Linked DNA regions of Homo sapiens. The protein of the gene in region 4 interacts with the protein of the main gene of each other region in a biochemical or structural test. Each region holds a gene or a part of one and is shown on either strand. Other genes may lie near its edges.

Evidence for each region. Proteins that work in one complex are often made in the same cells at the same time.
Region 1: the proteins of NEDD4L (region 4) and UBE2E1 form a complex in vitro, tested with the Homo sapiens proteins (2 studies listed by BioGRID).
Region 2: the proteins of NEDD4L (region 4) and UBE2D2 form a complex in vitro, tested with the Homo sapiens proteins (11 studies listed by BioGRID, with this or other methods).
Region 3: the proteins of NEDD4L (region 4) and NSRP1 form a complex in vitro, tested with the Homo sapiens proteins (one large-scale study listed by BioGRID).

The regions. Positions count from the first base shown.
Region 1 is NC_000003.12:23,811,714-23,816,902, forward strand, and holds part of UBE2E1 (ubiquitin-conjugating enzyme E2 E1), read left to right. Parts: intron 1-5,189. UniProt on the Homo sapiens protein: Accepts ubiquitin from the E1 complex and catalyzes its covalent attachment to other proteins. Catalyzes the covalent attachment of ISG15 to other proteins. Mediates the selective degradation of short-lived and abnormal proteins.
Region 2 is NC_000005.10:139,619,598-139,624,786, reverse strand, and holds part of UBE2D2 (ubiquitin-conjugating enzyme E2 D2), read right to left. Parts: intron 1,420-5,189; coding exon 1,326-1,419; intron 1-1,325.
Region 3 is NC_000017.11:30,168,075-30,173,263, forward strand, and holds part of NSRP1 (nuclear speckle splicing regulatory protein 1), read left to right. Parts: intron 1-28; coding exon of another isoform or gene 29-140; intron 141-826; exon of another isoform or gene 827-851; intron 852-4,467; coding exon 4,468-4,524; intron 4,525-5,189. UniProt on the Homo sapiens protein: RNA-binding protein that mediates pre-mRNA alternative splicing regulation.
Region 4 is NC_000018.10:58,396,025-58,400,120, reverse strand, and holds part of NEDD4L (E3 ubiquitin-protein ligase NEDD4-like), read right to left. Parts: intron 3,955-4,096; coding exon 3,852-3,954; 3' UTR 1-3,851. UniProt on the Homo sapiens protein: E3 ubiquitin-protein ligase that mediates the polyubiquitination of lysine and cysteine residues on target proteins and is thereby implicated in the regulation of various signaling pathways including autophagy, innate immunity or DNA repair.

The DNA.
Region 1 (5,189 bases), on a different chromosome or scaffold from region 4:
TGGATTTATTTGGAGTGGATTTTTACATATATGAAACAAAACTAAAGTAAATTTAAAGGTGTCTCCTTGCCTAATCATGGGTCTTTGATATGCCATTAAAGATGATGTAAAACCTTTCAGATGCGAAGGACATTTTGGTTTGGAAAACTGCTTTGCTACAGTAATCTCTTATTCAATCTCTGCTAAGCTAAGAGAACATTAGAGTTAAACACTGGATCTTCAAACTTACTCCATAGCATATAGATTTTTTATTAGACTTTTGGCAGAGCAATTCAGGAAACAATTTCTGGCTTTGATAAAGGTTTTCTTTTAAATTGTAGAGTTAAACTTTCATGGGGTGTTTTTTTCACTTGCTTTATTCAGACTGTATACATATGTGTGTTTCAGTTTCAAAACAAATTGAAACCAGCTTTCTAAGGGTTTGTTGATCACAGCTTTATTTAGAGAAGCCATTTTGCTACTGTTGAGTCAAGGTGGAAGACTTGATGACTTTACTAGATCAACAATGAAGTGAGGGTAACTTACAACTATGTATTAGAATAGAACCATTTATTTAAGGGAGGTCCTGTAACTCCCATACTTTAAAAATTAAGTATAACATTTAACCTAGTTCTCAAGATCGGCGTTGGAAAGGGATGTGAGATTTCAGAAATACTCTAAACTTATTGGTAGGAGTAGAAGTTACTGACAAAGTATTCAGCGGCTATACACAATTTTTAAGATGAGTGTGTGGGAATAGGTTGAAAAGCTAAATGAAGTATTTTGTTTAGTAACAGTGAACTTTGGAAACTAATTAGTGGATTAAATACAAAACTATTGCCGTTTTGGTTACATTCATTCTTAATGTTGATTAGGTGTGGGATGCTCTTCCGTGAAACTTTGTCCTGTTTTGTAAGGAAAGTCATTTTGAGTTTGAAATGCTCTTAAACTATAGTTTATAATTGGAACACTTAATCATTCTGGGGAATTCTTTCCTGGCTAATAATCTCTCAAGATGGTTGAGAAGTGGAAAAACCATAAGACTTAGGCCTAACTCATTATTTTGATGGTGGTGGTTCACGTGGAAGCCTGTAGCTTCCCTTGGTTGTTTGTGTGGAATCCATGTACATTCCCCAAGGTGGTTCTGTGCTGTCTAGTTATTGCTCCTGCTTGGTATTGTGTGTCTCCTATGTGTGTGTTATTAATAACATTGATTAAAACATATAATGGCTTTCTTGTGAATAAGCACAGTCAAATCTAAAATTGTAAACCATTTGAAGATTTTCATGGGATTAAGCATTTAAAAAAAAAAAACAGTGTAAGTACACTTCAGTTTCACATCGTTTTAACTGAGTTTATGTGTGAAAGATTTATGCTCCTGAGGCATGTGGAACTTTTTTATCTTTGGGAAACCCTCCCAATTACCCCTTCAAGGTGAAACGTTTGGGAATTACCTGTGGTCAGGGGATGCACCAAACTGGGTGGCTGTTGGGTGATTGGTGTTACGGAGTCAAAGCTCAAAATACTAAATTTTAAGAAAAATCTCTGATTTGAGAGAAAATACGAGGCATCTTCATTTTGCAAGAGAATGTATATTACATTGTCTTTTAACAATAAAGATGACTTTATTTTCTGAAGATATTTTCCAGTGGGGCCGTTTGAGTAATGTGAATTAAAATTTTTACTTTTGGTTGGCTAATGGTGCTGTCTTAATGTTATATAGTAGTCCCAATATTCAGCTCTCTTAAAAGAGTTCGGTTTTACGTTTTGTGCTGTTACCTTTTGGAATTTAATTATTTAGTATTTTAATGTACTTTATTGGAGATAAAGATGGATTATTTATTTATTTATTTATTTATTTTCTTTTTGAGACGGAGTCTTGCTCTGTAGCCCAGGCTGGAGTGCAGTGGCATGATTTCGGCTCATTGCAACCTCCACCTCCCGGGTCCTGGTTCAAGCAATTCTCCTGCCTCCTGAGTAGCTGGGATTATAGGCACGTGCCACCATGCCCAGCTAATTTTTGTATTTTGGGTAGAGATGGGGTTTCACCATGTTGGCCAGGCAGGTCTTGAACTCCTGACCTTGTGATCTGCCCGCCTTGGCCTCCCAAAGTGCTGGGGTTACGGGCGTGAGCCACTGCACCTGGCCTTGGGGATACTTTTTGAAGTCAGCGTCCAATGAAAATCTATGAATTAAGTGATATATTAAGTGCGTACATGTTTAAAATTACCCTCAGCATGAAAGCATGAGATTTGAATGAGTTAAATAATTGGTTTTCAATTAGTCTGTCTTATATTTTTACCCTTTGCCATACTTCCTTTCTTCAGTCAGCATTCAGTGTGTAGTTTTAAACACGTTATTAAAATATGGCACTTGGCACATAGTAACTTCTCAGTAAATACAAAAATTAGCCGGGCATGGTGATGCACTCCAGCCTGGGCGACAGAGTGAGACCCTGTCTCAAAAAAAAAAGTTGATTATTGCAAATCAGTAGAATTGCTCCTCTTGAAGGAAGGTGCACTGTTTGTGTTCACTAATTTTGGCACTTGGCAAAAATATTTGAAGTTACTGAGCATCAAAACTTATGTGAAATGCAATTGCTCAATATGTTATAATGTATGAAAACATAAAATTAAATTCTTAATGTTGTATATTATGTTGGGTGGATATTTTTTAGAACACAGTACAGATTGTGTTCAATGACCTGGTCCAAAGTCATTTTAAGTAAGTATTTTCAAACTGCTTTATGTTGCCATAGAAATCAAATTCTTAATTTTAGTATCTGTGATTTGTGTGTGTGTGTATATATATGCATACACACACACACAAAATAGTTTCCCAACTCACTCTTCATTTTGGTTAGGCTTTTATTCCCATATCATTTAGCTCTATTCTTTTAGGGAAAAAAATATGTTAACTTTGTAATGATTCCCTAAAGCGTGCCAGATCTTAGATTGTAAAATTATGCCTTTTAGATAGCTGATGAACTCTGGGCCACCAGAGTCAGTTTTGCAGCTGTTATTTATAGCCCAGGGCTCAAACTTTGCTAAATTGACTAGTTATAACTAGCCTGTAGACACGAATATCTGTAGACAGTATGTCTATACAGACTAAATGGCATATTTTGCCTAAGTCCTTTAAACTTCAGATTTTATTTAATGGATATATTTGTTTCATGAGTAAATGTCTCAGTGACTTAACCTAGAAATTCAGATGGGGTGCTATTTTAGGATAAAATGTCTGAAAAGTCATTAAACACTTCAAGCATGGGTGAGAATAATAAAAATACATTTCTTTCTTTCTCACTTTTTTTTTGAGACAGGGTCTCATTTTGTCACCCAGGCTGGAGTGCAGTGGTGCTCACTGCAGCCTTGACCTCCTGGGCTTAAGCTGTCCTCCTGCTTCAGGCCCCCAAGTAGCAGGAACTACAGGCGTTCGACACTACACTCGGTTAATTTTTTGTATTTTTTTGTAGAGACCAGGTTTTACCTATTGGCCAGGCTGATCTTAAACTCCTGGCCTCAAGCCGTCCACCCACTTTGCCCTTCCAGAGTGCTGGGATTACAGGCGTGAGCCATGGTGCCTGGCCCTGATACTAGTTTTTCTGTATGTGACAGAATTTCCATTTAGCCTTCTTTTGATAGCTTTTTTTTCCCTAACACTGCCTATATTTTAAATAGTTTTAAGCCATTATATTATACAAGAATGCATGTTTTTGAAAAATTCAAATACAGAAGTTTGTGGAGTAAAAGGCAAAAGATAGTCCTGATGACCTCTTCTGATCCTGCTCCTTGCACACAGATGCTCCAAGTTAGCACTTTGTATACTTCCACGTAGTTTCTGTGAATTTACATTGTGTTTTTCTGGCATTCCAATACCTCCTCGAATTGGTGGTAATGGTAATGAGATGTCAGTTCAGAAGTCCCAGGCTGCTCATCATGGTTCACAATGGAAAGAGATCCTTTTCTTGCAACAGTGGAGTGTTACATACCTCGTCCAGGTTCAGCATGTTTTAAATGGTTGTTTGGGTATAAGAAATAGGTTCAGCAGAAGTCATCCTTTATAAAACCCTGTATCTTATGTGCTAAAAAGTATTCTTCCTTTTAGCATCTTTCATTTATCTGATGTTACTAAATGCGTTAAGGATAGAAGTGTGACTTAAACATCTGAATGATGTTTAGTTTCACCATTGCAGTGTGTATACCTTTATGCATGTAAAGGCAGTGTTGAAAAATTGTGACAACCAGGAGACTGGGGTTTCAGCACGATCAAAACAGCACCCATACTAGGGTCAGGCTGTTGGGAATTAGATCATCACTGGGGCCTTTCCTATTAGAGAGGAAAGAAACCCTATCTGGAGATGAATTGCCTTTCAAATGAGCAGGAAGTCTTGTGGCGGTTGTGTTTACCAAAAGACTATATCTGGATTGTAAAACTGTACTATTGTTATTCCTCAGAAAGCTAAACAGAATTACCGTATGACCCAGTAATTTTACTGCTATCTATGTACCCTGAATAATTAAAAACAGAGGCTCAAACAGATAACCTGTATGTCAGTATTCATAGCATTATTCATAGTAGCCAAAAAGTGGAAAAAACCCAAGTGTCTGTCAACAGATGAGTGGATAAACAAAATTTGGTTAATCTATAAACTGGAATATTCATCTATAAAAAGGAATGAAGTTGTGATGCATGGATACAACATGGTTGAACCTTAATGTTATACTAAGTGGGCTGGGCGCAGTGGATTACGCTTGTAATCCCAGCACTTTGGGAGGCTGAGGCAGGCGGATCACGAGGTCAGGAGATCGACACCATCGTGGCGAACACAGTGAAACCCCGTCTCTACTAAAAATACAAAAAAATTAGCCGGGCATGGTGGCGGGCACCTGTAGTCCCAGCTACTCAGGAGGCTGAGGCAGGAGAATGGTGTGAACCCAGGAGGCGGAGCTTGCTGTGAGCAGAGATCGCACCACTGCACTCCAGCCTGGGCAACAAAGCGAGGCTCCATCTCAAAAAAAAAGGTTATACTAAGTGAAATAAACTAGAACCAAAAAGACAAATAGCGTATGATTCCACTTACATGAAATACCTAGAATAGGCAAACTCATAAGGACAGACAGTAGATTAGAGGTTTTCAGGGACTGAGGGGAGGGGAGAATGGGGAGTTATTTCTTAATGAATACAGTTTCTTTTTGAGGTGGTGAAAG
Region 2 (5,189 bases), on a different chromosome or scaffold from region 4:
AGTTGGAGACGTGAGTCTTGCTCTGTCGCCCAGGCTGAAGTGCAGTGGTGCAATTTCAGCTCACCGCAACCTAAACGTCCTGAGTTTAAGCAATTATCTCAGCCTCTCGAGTAGCTGCGATTACAGGTGCCCGCCACCATGCCCGGCTAATTTTTGTATTTTTAGTAGAGACGGGGTTTCACCCCGTTGGCCAGGCTGGTCTCAAACTCCTGACCTTGTGATCTGCCCACCTCAGCCTCCCAAAGTGCTGGGGTTACAGGCGTGAGCCACTGCGCCCGGCCCTAAAAGAACTATCCACCCTCTCCTATCTAGTTCCTCTTATAACTTCACTGAATACTACATAAAACAGATGTTATTAGTGCTGGGCATGGTGGGCATGCTTATAATCCTAGCTACTCCAGAGGCTGAGGTAGGGAGTTTGAGACCAACCCAGGCAACACAGCAAGACTCCATCTCAAAAGAAAAAAAGAAAAGAAAAAATGCTACTAGAACACTTTTAGCTACTATCTCTTTTGATATCTTGACCACTGTTCAATAATTCATAGTACAATTCTAAAATACCCAAATTCTACATCAAGTTTTGTTTTTAAAAGAAATTTGGGGCTTTCACGTCTAATGGCATTTATTTGCTTTCTTCCTTTAGATTATGTCAAATGGTAGGAAATCAATTCTCTTTTCCCATTAATTGACAAATACCTATGGCAGGCAAATGGGCACTTGATGAAAAGTGCTTTATATATCAAAAGCCAAGCATAAGGCATTAAGCTGTTGAAAAATATACCATAGGAAAGTTTTTGTATGGGTGTGGTGGCTCACACCTGTAATCCCAGCACTTTGGGAGGCCTAGGCAGGCAGATCATTTGAGGTCAGGAGTTCGAAACCAGCCTGGCCAACATGGTAAAAGTCTCTACTAAAACTACAAAAAAAACGAACCTGGCGTGGTGGCCTGCGCCTGTAATCCCATCTACTCGGGAGGCTGAGGCATGAGAATCACTTGAACCCAGGAGGCGGAGGTTGCAGTGAGCCAAGACTGCACCATTGCACTCTAGCCTGGGTGACAGAGTAAGACCCTGTCTCAAAAAAAAACAAACAAAAAAAAAAGTTTTTGTAGACAAGAGGAGTCACGTGAAACAATCAGGGATAAGACTGGCATCATCTACTTATAATAATACTCAATGCATATATTTCTCTTTTCTAGCCCCAGGAGAGTATATTAGGACTTCACTTTAAATATCTGGCCGATATTCAGCCCTTAAACAAGAAAGATTTGTGACAAACATCTCCATCCCACCACAGATAACTTTCCATCTTGAGGCCATACTTACTTTTCTCTATCTGTTTTGTAGATCCGAGCAATCTCAGGCACTAAAGGATCATCTGGATTGGGATCACACAACAGAGAACAGATGGACAAGAGTACTAGAATGAAAAAAATCATATAAATTAGCAGAGGATCAAAGCAAAGGGTTGAGAGAAACATGAGACGCCAAAACATGAGAAAATTCTAAGAATTTATACTGTAATGCCTAGCAGCTTTGTAAGTTTTACTTAACTTTATATTAACAGTAACCAACAAGGATTATTATTATTATTATTATTTCTTTTTTTTTTAGCAGAATTGGGGTTTCACCATGTTGGCCAGGCTGGTCTCGAACTCCTGACCTCAGGTGATCCACCCACCTCGGCCTCCCAAAGTCCTGGGATTACAGGCTTGAACCACCATGCCTGGCCTAATTTTTGTATTTTTAGTAGAGATGGGGTTTCGCCATGTTGGTCAGGCTGGTCTGGAACTCCTGACCTCGTGATTCACCCGCCTCGGCCTCCCAAAGTGCTGGGATTACAAGCGTGAGCCACCACACCTGGCAAATAGTTTTTTTTATTTTTTATTTTTTGAGACGGAGTCTGGCTCTGTCGCCCAGACTGGAGTGCAGTGGCGCGGCGCGGTCTAGGCTCACTGCAAGCTCCGCCTCTCAGGTTCACACCATTCTCCTGCTTCAGCCTCCTGAGTAGCTGGGACTACAGGCACCCGCCACCACGCCCGGCTAATTTTTTGTATTTTTAGTAGAGACGGGGGTTTCACCGTGTTAGCCAGGATGGTCTCGATCTCCTGACCTCGTGATCCGCCCACCTTGGCCTCCCAAAGTGCTGGGATTACAGGCGTGAGCCACTGCACCCAGCCTACCAACAAGGATTTTAAGAAGCTTAAACAGACTTTAGGTTAGGTCATTAAAAAATAAAAATGAAGGCTGGCTGCAGTGGCTCATGCCTGTAATCCCAGCACTTTGGGAGGCGGAGGGGGGTGGATCACGAGATCAAGAGATTGAGACCATCCTGGCCAACATGGTAAAACCCCATCTCTACTAAAAATACAAAAATTAGCTGGGCGTGGTGGTGTGTGCCTGTAGTCCCAGCTACTCAGGAGGCTGAGGCTGGAGAATCGCTTGAACCTGGGAGGTGGAGGTTGCAGTGAGCCGAGATCGTAGCATTGCACTCCAGCCTGGGCGACACAGCAAAAAATCCATCTCCAAAAAATAATAATTATAATAAAAAATAAAAAATAAAATAAAACAAATAGCAGAAAATTAATGTTAAATGACATCTTGGTCTCCCAGATACAAATATAAGCCCCTTTGTGCAAAGTCTCACAACAATCCCATGATGTAAGAAGAGTTGATATGACTGTCTTTATGCCTGAACTCCTAAGGGAGCTGGCCCAGACAGGTGCAGTGACGTGTTCAATGTCCCTGGCTAGTAATTAGAATAGAATTAGAACTTTGTCTAAATTCTAGACCAAGAACATTTTTCAGATCCCATAAAGTTCAATTTTTTAGAAGCCCATATTCAAGGATAAATGGCTTTCAAAATTCCAAGTGCGATGGCTCACTCCTGTAATCACAGCACTTTGGGAGGCCACAGCAGAAGGATCGCTTCAGGCCAAGAGTCTGAGACCAGCCTAGGCAACAGAGTGAGATTCTGTCTCTACAAAAAATAAAAATATTAGCTGGATGTGGTGGCACACTCCTATGGTCCCAGCTACTCAGGAGGCTGAGGTGGGAGGATCACTTACGCCCAAGAGGTTAAGGCTGTATTGAGCTGTGTTCACACCACTGCACTCCAATCTGGGTGACAGAGTGAGACCCTGCCTCAAAAAGAAAAAAAAAAAAGACAGCCACACTACTGAATATTCTTAGCAAAAACGACAACCATAAAATCCAACAATCACTGTTTTCCAGTGGCAGGCACCACATTCAGACAATTGTTTTGTTTAATTTTCAGTTGAAAACAATTCAGTCTAAATCAAGAACATAAATGCAAACACTTGCCCCTAAATGGGGATGGTCATACACTCATTACAGAGAATACAACATACTTCTATGAATGTCTCAAATTCTCTTCAGTGACAATTTAGAATCTCATCTAAGCCATTTCCTCGGTGACAACCTGGGATGTAGCAGACAAATCTCAATAGTGTAATTTCCTTTGTTCAAATCTGTCATTAACTTATGTTTTAAAATATTTATTTATTTATGTATGTATTTATTTAGAGACAGGGTCTCACTCTGTCGCCCAGGCTGGAGTGCAGTGGCATGATCTTGGCTCATTGCAGCCTAAACCTCCTGGGCTCAAGTCATCCTCCCACCTCACTCTCCAGGTAAGACTACAGGTGAGTGCCACCATGTGTAGCTAATTTTCTTTGTATTTTTTGTAGAGGTTGGGTTTTGCCATGTTGGCCAGGCTAGTCTTGATCTCCTAGGCTCAAGTGATCCACCTGCCTCGGCCTCCCGAAGTGCTGGGATTACAGGCGTGAACTACCACACCCGGCCATATCTATCATTAACTTATGCATTCCTTACTGAATGCAAAGGGGGCATAAAGTCACTGATTACATTAAGTTCAGTAGCCTCTGACAAAATAAATTTAAATCCTTCTATACTAATGCTAATAGAGCTCAGCCATCTTTCTTTTCTCTAATAGGTGTTCTGTACCAAGAGATAATAACTCTCAGCCCATTTTACTCCCAACACATAAATTCAGCAGGGAAAGGATTCGCTCATATTCCTACCAAATCTATCCTATAGAGATCAAGGGCTTCTGAGAAGTAAAGAAATAGTTGGCATGCCCTATTCAGTTTGGTAACAAAAATGCTATTTCCTTGCCTTAAGAGTATATGAAAAGTTTTTTTAAAAAATCAGGAGAGATGTTTTCTGACTCTTCATTCCTGTTACCCACAATTCTGGCAGCTGGCATTCCAAAAACATTTTCCTATTGTCAGGTGTCATCACCTGAAGCCCTCTTCAAGCATAGAACATTCTAACATCAATTAGGAAAGACTTCATGTATTTCCTGGAAATGACAACAGGGAAGTTAGAAATTTTTGAATGTTCCTTTAACTTATTCTTCTAAATATTCTAATAAGTCAACTTTAAAGGACAGGTTTTAAAGAAAGGGCTTTTCTTTCTTTCCAGGAAAGGAGAGTACTGGCTATCTGGACCTTGTGAAAAGATTTTTAGTACACTACTTAGCTTCTTGATTTCATGAAGAATTCATTTTGGTTTCTAATATACTGATATGGTTTGGATCTGTGTCCCCACACAAATCTCATGTTCAACTGTAATCCCCAACGTTGGAGGTGGGGCCTGGTGGGAGGCGACTGGATTATGGGGGTGTATCCTTCATGAATGGTTTAGCACGACCCCTTTGGTGCTGTTCTTGTGATAGAGTTCTCATGAGATCTGGCTGTTTAACAGTGTGTGGCACCTCCCCCATCTCTCTCTTGGTCCTGCTACTGCCATGTGAGACAGGTGGCTCCCCCTTTGCCTTCTGCCATGAGTAAAAGCTCCCGAGGACTCCGCAGAAGCAGATGCTGCCATGCTTTCTGTATAGCCCACAGAACTGTGAGCCAATTAAACCTCCTTTTTTTTTGAGACGGAGTTTCACTCTTGTTGCCCAGGCTGGAGTGCAATGGCGCGATCCCAGCTTCCTGCAACCTCCGCCTCCCGGGTTCAAGCGATTCTCCCGCCTCAGCCTCCCAAGTAGCTGGGATTACAGGCATGCACCACCAAGCCAGGCTAATTTTTGTATTTTTGGTAGAGATGGGGTTTCTCCATGTTGGTCAGGCTGGTCTCAAACTCCCGACCTCAGTGATCTGCGCATCTCGGCCTCCCAAAGTGCTGGGATTACAAGAGTGA
Region 3 (5,189 bases), on a different chromosome or scaffold from region 4:
AATTCTGTGTTGTCTTGAGACATTTCAGTGTATATCCAGTACTGGTGTTTAAAGGAAAGTTATTAAAGTTTGGAATAAGAGTACCTGAATTGGAATCTTGCTTTGCCATTCACCAGCTGTTTGTCCTTAAATTCTCTCAGGTAATCTGTAGCCTTAACAATTAAAGGTGACTTCTATATGTCATTTAGCTTACTTATCCATTATTTCTGAAGTTGTTAGGATTATTGTAACTACTGTTGTTGTTACTATTTTTAGATTAATATATTTCCTTTCTGGATTTCCATTTAAAATATATTTAAAGAATCATAAAAATTAAACACAAGCAACATCCTTTTATATTCTGCACAGTTCTTAGCAGAATTATAGATTCAAAAAAGACACACAGAATAGGCCACAATACATGTGCCAATTTTTGTTCTCAATCTTAAAATTACATAGTATAATTATTATGGTTATCTGAAAACAATCACGTTGTGCACATGTACCCTAAAACTTAAAGTATAATAATAATAATAATAGTAATAATAATAATAATAAATAAAATAAAATAAGTATCTGCTCTTTTATGAGGAAATTGTTTTTAATTGTAGTAGTTATTTTTCAGTCTGATCTGAATCTAGATGAGTTTTTTATGTTATATAGAAGATCATTTTATATATTTTTATATAGGGTTACTATTACAGAAAAAAGTAAAAGTTTTACTGCTACTCTTTTAAGCTTTTTGTATTTGTTTAAACAGGTTTTTGGCATTTAATCGTCATCCTTAGTGGTAATTGTTAAAGTACCTTTATTTAGAAAATTGAGAATCAAATGACCTTCAAAAGATCATCAGTTTTTCCTGACTTTTTCAGGTTAGGTTCAGAGTTATCCACTGATGCTGTTGAATTCTAGGGATATAAGTTTGTGAATAGAATATGTAAAACTATTGCACTCCTTCCATTATGTTACCTTCCTGTGTAAGTAGTAACAGCTTGTTTTTTCAACGGTCATACTTCATTCTTCTAAACAGCTATGAACATAGAAACAAAATCTTTTGAGGTGTCTCAAAATAGATATAGTCTACATTGGAAAGGCCTTTCTCAGTCTGCTTATTCTATATTTTATAAAAGTCTGGAAAGGTATAGCCTTGTGTTTTTCTTTCCCAAGTTTTCTTTTTAAAAGTTATTTTATTTCTCTGAGAATCTTCCATAACAACCAAGTTACATAGTTTAGATTGAAGCATCCAGTTTGAAAGGCAGCAGGTAAACTCTGACAGATTAAAGGTGACAGACTGAAGGAGGAGATAGGAAAAAATAAAAGCAAGTAAAAGAGGAAAACATCCAGCATTTGGAGATGTAATCTTCTCAGTCAGTCCTGAAGACATCATTAACTCAGTGGTCAAGAAAAATATTTTTCATTCATACTAATCAGAAATACAGACATGAAAATACATTGGAAATATTAACTATTACTTTCAGTTTTGGTATTTAAAATTGATATTCTAGTGAATGAAAGTTTCATATTACATGTAACAGAAATTTGGATTAAATCAGTAATACATGTAATACACAACTAGTATACTTAGCATAGCACCTAGCTCAATAAATGTTAGCAGCTATTACTGTTTTTGTTATCAACATCTTTCCCCCAGTTAGTCAGTTTACCATCACCTAAAATGTCTTTAGTTCTTTGCATACTTATTTAATTTTTTAAATATGTATTATATGACCTTTGTGTATTAAATTGATTTGTCTGTGGTCATAGAGAACTATTTTGTTCTGGTTATTACCATGAAAAAAAAAAAGCACCAATTGCTGGTACAATACAACTGAAGATAGCAAGTGTTAATAGGCTGGACTACTATAATTCTAGAGCTGAGGATTTTGTGTACATATATATATTTAAAACTTACACATATGTTTTTATGTATATTTAAGACTTCGTTTTTTTTTAAACAGCAGTTTTAGACTGACAGCAAAATTGAGAGGGACAGAGATAACCCATGTAGCCCTTGCCCCCACAAATGAAAGAATTAAAAATGCATCAGTAGCTTTATTTTGGCTTTTTTAAAAAGATGTAATTCACATAGCATAAAATTCATGCTTTTATACAATTCAGTGTCAGTATATTTGCAAATCCTGATACTTGAAAAAAATTAATTGTGCATATTAAGGTATATAACAATTATGGGATATAGATGGTAAAAAGTTTACTACAGTAAAGCAAATTAACATGTCCATTATCTTACATACTTTTTTTGTTTCTGTGGCAAGAGCAGCTACAATTTACTCATTTAGCATGAATACCATATATAGTACAATTTTATTACCTATTGTCCTCATGTGGTACATTAGATCTCTAGACTTGTTCATCTTGTTACATACCTACCTCTTCCCATTTCCTCTCACCCCACCCCTAGTAACCATTGTTTTTAAGTTCTTTATCTCTGTGAGAGATTCCACTTACAAATGATGTCAGGTACTATTTTTCTTTTTGTGTCTGGCTTACCATGTAGCATAATGTCCTCCAGGCCCATTCATATTGTGGCAAATGGCAAGATCTCCTTTTTAAAGGCTGAATAATACTCCATCATACATATTTACCACAGTTTCTTTATCCATTCATTTGTCAATGAACAGGTAGATTGTTTCCATACCTGGCTATTGCAAATAATGCTGCAATGAACATGGGAGTGAAGCTACCTTTACCAGGTGGTGATTTCATTTCCTTTGGCTATATGCCAAGAGGGATTGCTAGGCTGTATGGTAGTTCTATTTTTAATTTGTTTATAAACCTCCATACTGTTTTCCATATTGACTGTACCAGCCTACATCTGCACCAGCAGTATATAAGAATTCCCTTTTCTGGCACCCATGCTAACCTTTATTATTTTTTGACTTTTTTAGAATAGCCATTCTAACAGGTGTGAGGTGTTATCTCTTAGTGGTTCTGATTTACATTTCCCTGATGATTAAAGCCTGTACTATTAAGGAAACATATTTTTCTTAAGTATTTTTTTTTCTTAGCTGTATGTAATCTTTAGTTTTGCCCATGTGATGACTACTTCCTATCTTCCTCTTGCATTCTTTTACATTTTTATTCTCTTTGATTCTGGTCTAATGTCATATCTCTTTTGGAAAGGGATTCTTGATTCCTCATATACATTTAGTTGCCTTCTCTGCCCTGGGCTCCCACAGTGCTTTGTTTATTCCTTTATTATATTGCTTATCACATTTATATTGTAATTGTCTTTTTTTTTTTTTTTTTTTTGAGACAGAGCCTGGTTCTGTTGCCCAGGCTGGAGTGCAGTGGCACAATTTTGGCTCACTGCAACATCTGCCTCCCAGGTGCAAGTGATTCTCATGTCTCAGCCTTTCAAGTAGCTGGGATTACAGCTGTGCTCCAACACTCCCGGCTCATCTTTGTATTTTCAGTAGAGACGGGGTTTCACCATGTTGGCCAGGCTGGTCTCAAAACTCCTGGCCTCAAGTGATCTGCCTGCCTCAGCCTCCCAAAGTGCTGGGATTACAGGCATGAGCCACCGCGCCTGGCCATATATTGTGATTATTTCTTTAATTGTCTTCCCTTTCAGACTGTTTATCTGAAAAACAAGATTTTGTTTCAGTCTCTGGCCTAAGACTGAGACTGTTCTTGCTTTTTCACTATCCTCAGGACCTAAACATGCTTTTTGGTACATAGTTTTTGATTATTGCCACGAATAGTTGCTGCTGTCCCTAAGCCTTAAACATAAACCGAGAGCTTGATACACTATATTGAGTGGTGAATATTAAAATAGTTTGCTTTTTGTAAGCTGGGAATCATACCATTTTAGTGTTGGAAGGTACCTGAAATATTATCTAGACCAGTCTTTCCCCATTTCTCACACACACACACACACACACACACACACACACACACACTCCCTCTCTCTCTCTCTCTCTCTCTCTCTCTCTCTCTCTCTCACATGTTCACATGAAGCAAATTGAAATCTGTAAAGGTTGAATGACAGTAGTGAATTTAGGACTAAAAATTCATGTTTACTCATCTTTTCCTGTACCATTCTATTTTCTCTGATACCTTATAATCTATTCTGAGGATTTACAATGCAAATTCATTTATTTCCTGAAGTTTAGGGAAAAAACCCTGAAAATGTTAGTTTAATTTGTATTATTATCTTTTTACTTTTAACTATAAGTAAGGCACCATTGCCAACCAGAAAACAGGTTGAGCATCCCAAATCTGAAAATCAAAAATCCTAAATGTTCTAAAATCTAAAACTTTTTTGAGCACTAATGTGAAGCTCAAATGAAATGCTCATTGGAGCATCAGATATCAGATCTTCAGATTTGGGGTGCTGAACCAGTAAGTATTTTAAAAATCTGAAATACAAAACACTTCTGGTCCCATGTATTTTAGATAGGGGACGCTCGTACTGGAAAAGAAATTTTAAATTTGTTTAAAAAGTGACAATATATTTCTGTTTTACAGACCTCTGTGAGTGAAAGCCTTCAGAGGGAAGCTGCTAAGAAGCAGGCCATGAAACAGGTAAGGTAGAAGACTGGGATAAGTGCATTCAGTGAAGCATTCCGGCTCATTTTTAAGCATCAGTTTTGGTATCTAGGTGCTGAGACTAAAACAGAATAGATTTAAGGAAAAACACAATGAAGAATTAGCTCCTTATTGCTGTGCTATAGATTAAACCAGTTCTGCTTGTAGATGACTCATTAGTCTAATAATGGATTGTTTGGCCTGTTGTTATTATTAAATTCTTGCTAGTGAGCTTACTTGCAGGGAAAAAAAAAACCTTTTCACAACCAAAATGGTTTCACAAACTTATAATTATTTGAAACTCATCTGCCCAGAAAGAAGAATATCAGAGATAGATACAAATATATAGATATATAGATATATAGATTTTTTTTTTTTTTGAGATTGAGTCTTGCTCTGTTGCCCAGGCTGGAGTGCCGTGGTGCACTCTCGGCTCACTGCAGTCTCCATCTCCTGGGTTCAGGCAATTCTCCTGCTTCAGCCTCCCGAGTAGCTGGGACTAAAGGCGCATGCCACCATGCCCAGCTAATTTTTATATTTTTAGTAGAGACGGGGTTTCACCGTGTTGGTCAGGCTGGTCTGGAACCCGTGACCTCAGGTGATCCGCCAACCTCAGCCTCCTGAAGTGCTGGGATTACAGGCGTGAGCCACCGTGCGCGGCC
Region 4 (4,096 bases):
TTAAGTACAGGGGTGCAGGGCCAGGGTAAGGAGGAGACAGAAGAAGGAGAACTAGCACAGTGTCACGTAGGGGCTGCAGAACTGATTAACCCAGGCTCTCTTTATACGTTTTTAAATTTCAGAGGTGAGTACAAGACTCTCAGAAATACAGGAGTCGACTGTTAATGGGTAACTGTTAGAATAATTAAAAAGTTGCTGTGTATGAACCTGGCTTTCGGGAGGACCAGTGTGGATCTGGCAAGATAGCAGCGGTGCACACTCTCTATGCAACAATGGGAGATGTAGAAAATGGTTCAAATGTTTTGCATGCTGTTTCTCAGAATCTGTCACTGTGAGGCCGGGTGCGGTGGCTCATGCTTGTAATCCCAGCACTTTGGAAGGCTGAGGCGGGAGGATCACCTGAGGTCAGGAGTTCAAGACCAGCCTGGCCAGCATGGTGAAACCATCTCTACTAAAAATACAAAAATTAGCCAGGCGTGGTGGTGGGTGCCTGTAATCCCAACTATTCGGGGAGGCTGAGGCAGAAGAATCGCTTGAAGCCAGGAGGCAGAGGTTGTGGTGAGCTGAGATTGAGCCACTGCACTCCAGCCTGAGCTACAGAGCAAGACTCTGTCTCAGAAATAACAATAATAATCTGTCCCTTTGTCCTTACATGGGAGAAATAATACATGCCAAGTCGCTCTGTATCCCTCATTGTCTGAATTTAGGGAATATCTGATGTCACCTTCTGAAGGGTCCTGGAAACAAAAACCAAGTGTCTTACCTTTGTTCTTGAGATTTGTTAGAGGACTGGCTGCAGAGAAGCATAAACATTTCAGGCAAAAAGGAAAAGAGCACTGAAGCTGGGAATACACCGCAACACAGACAATGAATGCCTCACTGCTGCCGGCTCCAGGGCCAGCAGTGGAGAGGCACAGGCTGTTGGACCTTCATCCCACCAGGTGCTCTTTCCACATCCTTCCTCGGGCCAACAAGGGGCAGGAATGGAAATACCCGGGACCCACAGGCAGCTGTGATAACTGATGTTAAGAGAACCGCAACAGGCAGTGTGTGAGCTCCGGCACGTACTTCTCAGCCTCATGTAAGTGGCCCATAATAACTACAGCTTCAGCAGACAACTAAAGAGACTGCATTAAGGTGATTTCTCTGGCTATAAAGAGAGCCCGGCCTGCAGAGCAGTGTGACTGCTGGGACCTCTGGGATAGGCAACACTGCCCTCTCTCCCCCAGGGCTACTCCCCGGGCAGGTCGGGGCCCAAGGAATGACCCAGCAACTGCTCCTTACCCAGCACACTCTCTTTACTGCCACCTGCAATTATGCTGTGAAGATGACTGGGTGTGGTCATCACGATTCAGAGAAATCAAGATCTATGACCATTTTAGGCAAAGAGAGAAACTTGGAGAATTGCTGAGGACTACTGAACCTTGTTTTGCTTTTTTAAAAAATACTAAATCCTCACTTCAGCATATTTAGTTGTCATTAAAATTAAGCTGATATTATTAAGGGGTTGATGAACTGAGGTGTCACTCACAATTACTGCCTTCCAAGTATTCATGGGGTAGATTTCAGTAATTCTTGTTTGCTTCTGGCTTAGAAATTGTCAGAATGATTTTTCTTTTATACTTTCCAATACTTGACTTAATATGCATTTAGTGACATTCTGTTTTTTTCAATATACGGTTTACAAGATGACAGAAGAATCCCAGTTCTTAGGTTAGAATTGGATTTCTCCCTCTACAATTACACAATTACTCTCAAAAACCAAGAAAGCATACTGCTCGACTCAGGCTCTGGCATGATTCTTAAAAAGAAAACTGCCTCTAGACTATGGGGGCTTACAAAAAGGGGATTTTTGCCACTGAGACATTTGTCATGTTAACTGTAGCGGAAAACATCTCACCAATAGTCAAAACTCATGAGCGGGAATTTTTTTTTTTTTTTTTTTTTTTTTTTTTTTTTTTTTAGTTACATAGCATCTAAGTTTTCTGATCACTACCAGGTAATTTTCAACCAATAAGAAAAAGGAACCAACACTCAGCTCTGTAGAAATCTACCTTCTTTTAGAAACCTCAGGCCTCTGCACCCCTTTAGACAACTCATTTACAACCACAACCTTCCATGGCTTCTCACATGCCAGCCAGGGCAGGGTAAAAACGGCAATTTCTTACACCGAAAGGTCCTTTTTATGTAACAAACAGACCTCCCCAAACCACAACTTTTTTGTCCTATTGATGACTCGCATGAGATCAAATCTCTAGTGTCCCCTGACTGCCCCGACAGGGTCTAGGACAACACAGGTTAAAAAGGACAGCAGGGTCGTTCAACTCCCACACTGCCTCAGGTGTTTTCTCAAAGCACGACAATTCTGCAATGGAGACTTACACGTGGAAAAGAATCAAACTGTGCAGGTACCCTCAGTCCTCTGCCACTACCAGCTCAATAGCTTGAGCTCAGAGGATCAAGTCAAGTCTCTGTCTCACTTTTAATCTAGCACACAAGAGGCACAACTCAGGCAGTACACGGTATTGAAGCATGCAACAGGTCATTGGTAACAAAACTCAGTTAGATTAAGAGTACATTAAATAAATCTTTGTAGTTGAGTAGAAATCACAAAACAGTTGGTGAGGACAGGTCTGTAGGCTCAGCTTTACATCCAGGTTTTTATACACCAGCAGCCAGATTCACAATTGATAGATATTGCACCGGAAAGATGTGTGCAGGGAAAAGAAATCATCATCACATTTAATGTTCATGATAAAAAAATAAAAACAAAACCAGATATGACCTCCATGTAGTACATAAAGTGCCTTCAGAATTGGTGCATTTACAACAAAAACTGGTTATTTAGCTACCATTAGCAAACGCATACAAACAGGAGACTAAACAGATCTGGTTTCCACAGTTTTGAATCAAGCAGTGCCAAGTTTCATTCAAAATGTCTCTACTACAAACAGCAAAGAGGAAATAGAATAAAAGATGACTGTACAGCGCCAGGAAGGGTTAAGTAATTTCTCGGATGAGAAATGGGAGTCCAACCCTGTCTCAAATGTGTTAGAACACATGTAATTACTTCTAAGGAATAATGGTGTGATTCCTTTCAAGTCAACACAAAATTTGTCATGCTATGTTACAATTCTCTCAGCCTGTAGCTATTAGCTAAATTTGTACAAAAAAACCCCAAAACAAAAACGTAATATCCAGTTTTTCATTCTGAGTATGGAAAAAATTATCATTATGTCTAATATTATATTGGAAATTCTCTCAAAGTACTTGTCTGTAGGTTTTTGGACAAAAATTTGCCTTCCAATTCTAATAAAGTAGAGGGTGGAGGTGTCAGAGTACTTCAAAAATAAAAATGTCATTGACATTAAGCCTGGTATGAAAGTGAAATACAAAAAAAAAAAAAATGCTCACTTTTCCAAGTACATGAGACATCTTTAATCATAACGAAATAAAATCTGAAAATCGGTCTAAATCATTTTAAAAAGTAAACATGAGTCGTAATACTATACCTGTTGAGTGATTAATTCCATTCATTGTCATTAGAAAGGATGTAAAATATTTATTAAGGGCTTTGCCTGCAGAGGCACAACATAAATAGCATTAAGTCCTCCTGAAATGTAATTAGTGTACACATCAACCAGTTGATAATTTGTGGTGGGAAAGGCAGGAACTCAAGCTGGGACCAGGTTCCCGCATCCGAACTTGGACGAGTGCGTGGTGAAGGCTCGGCTCCAGGGACCATGCCTGCAGCTGCTCTCTGCCATCGCCTCTGCAAAAGTCTGTTAGGCAAATGCAAAAGTGCAAGCAGAACTTGCTTGAAGAACAACCACCCCCGAGGCACAGGGTGCTTAATCCACCCCTTCAAATCCTTGAGCATTTTCCACGGCCATGAGAAGTTTCTCTCGTAAATCTTCAAAGGTTTCATATGGAGGTAAGTCAAGGCGATTAAAGCTGCAAAAGGAACAAAAAGTGTAGGTGAAAAGCCACAACAGCACTTCCTCGATCTGGTTAATAGGGCATGAGGTTTGAGTAAGAGAATAAAAAAGCCTTAACCAACAATTTTGATTACCTGGAGAAAAAAACCCCAAAAACC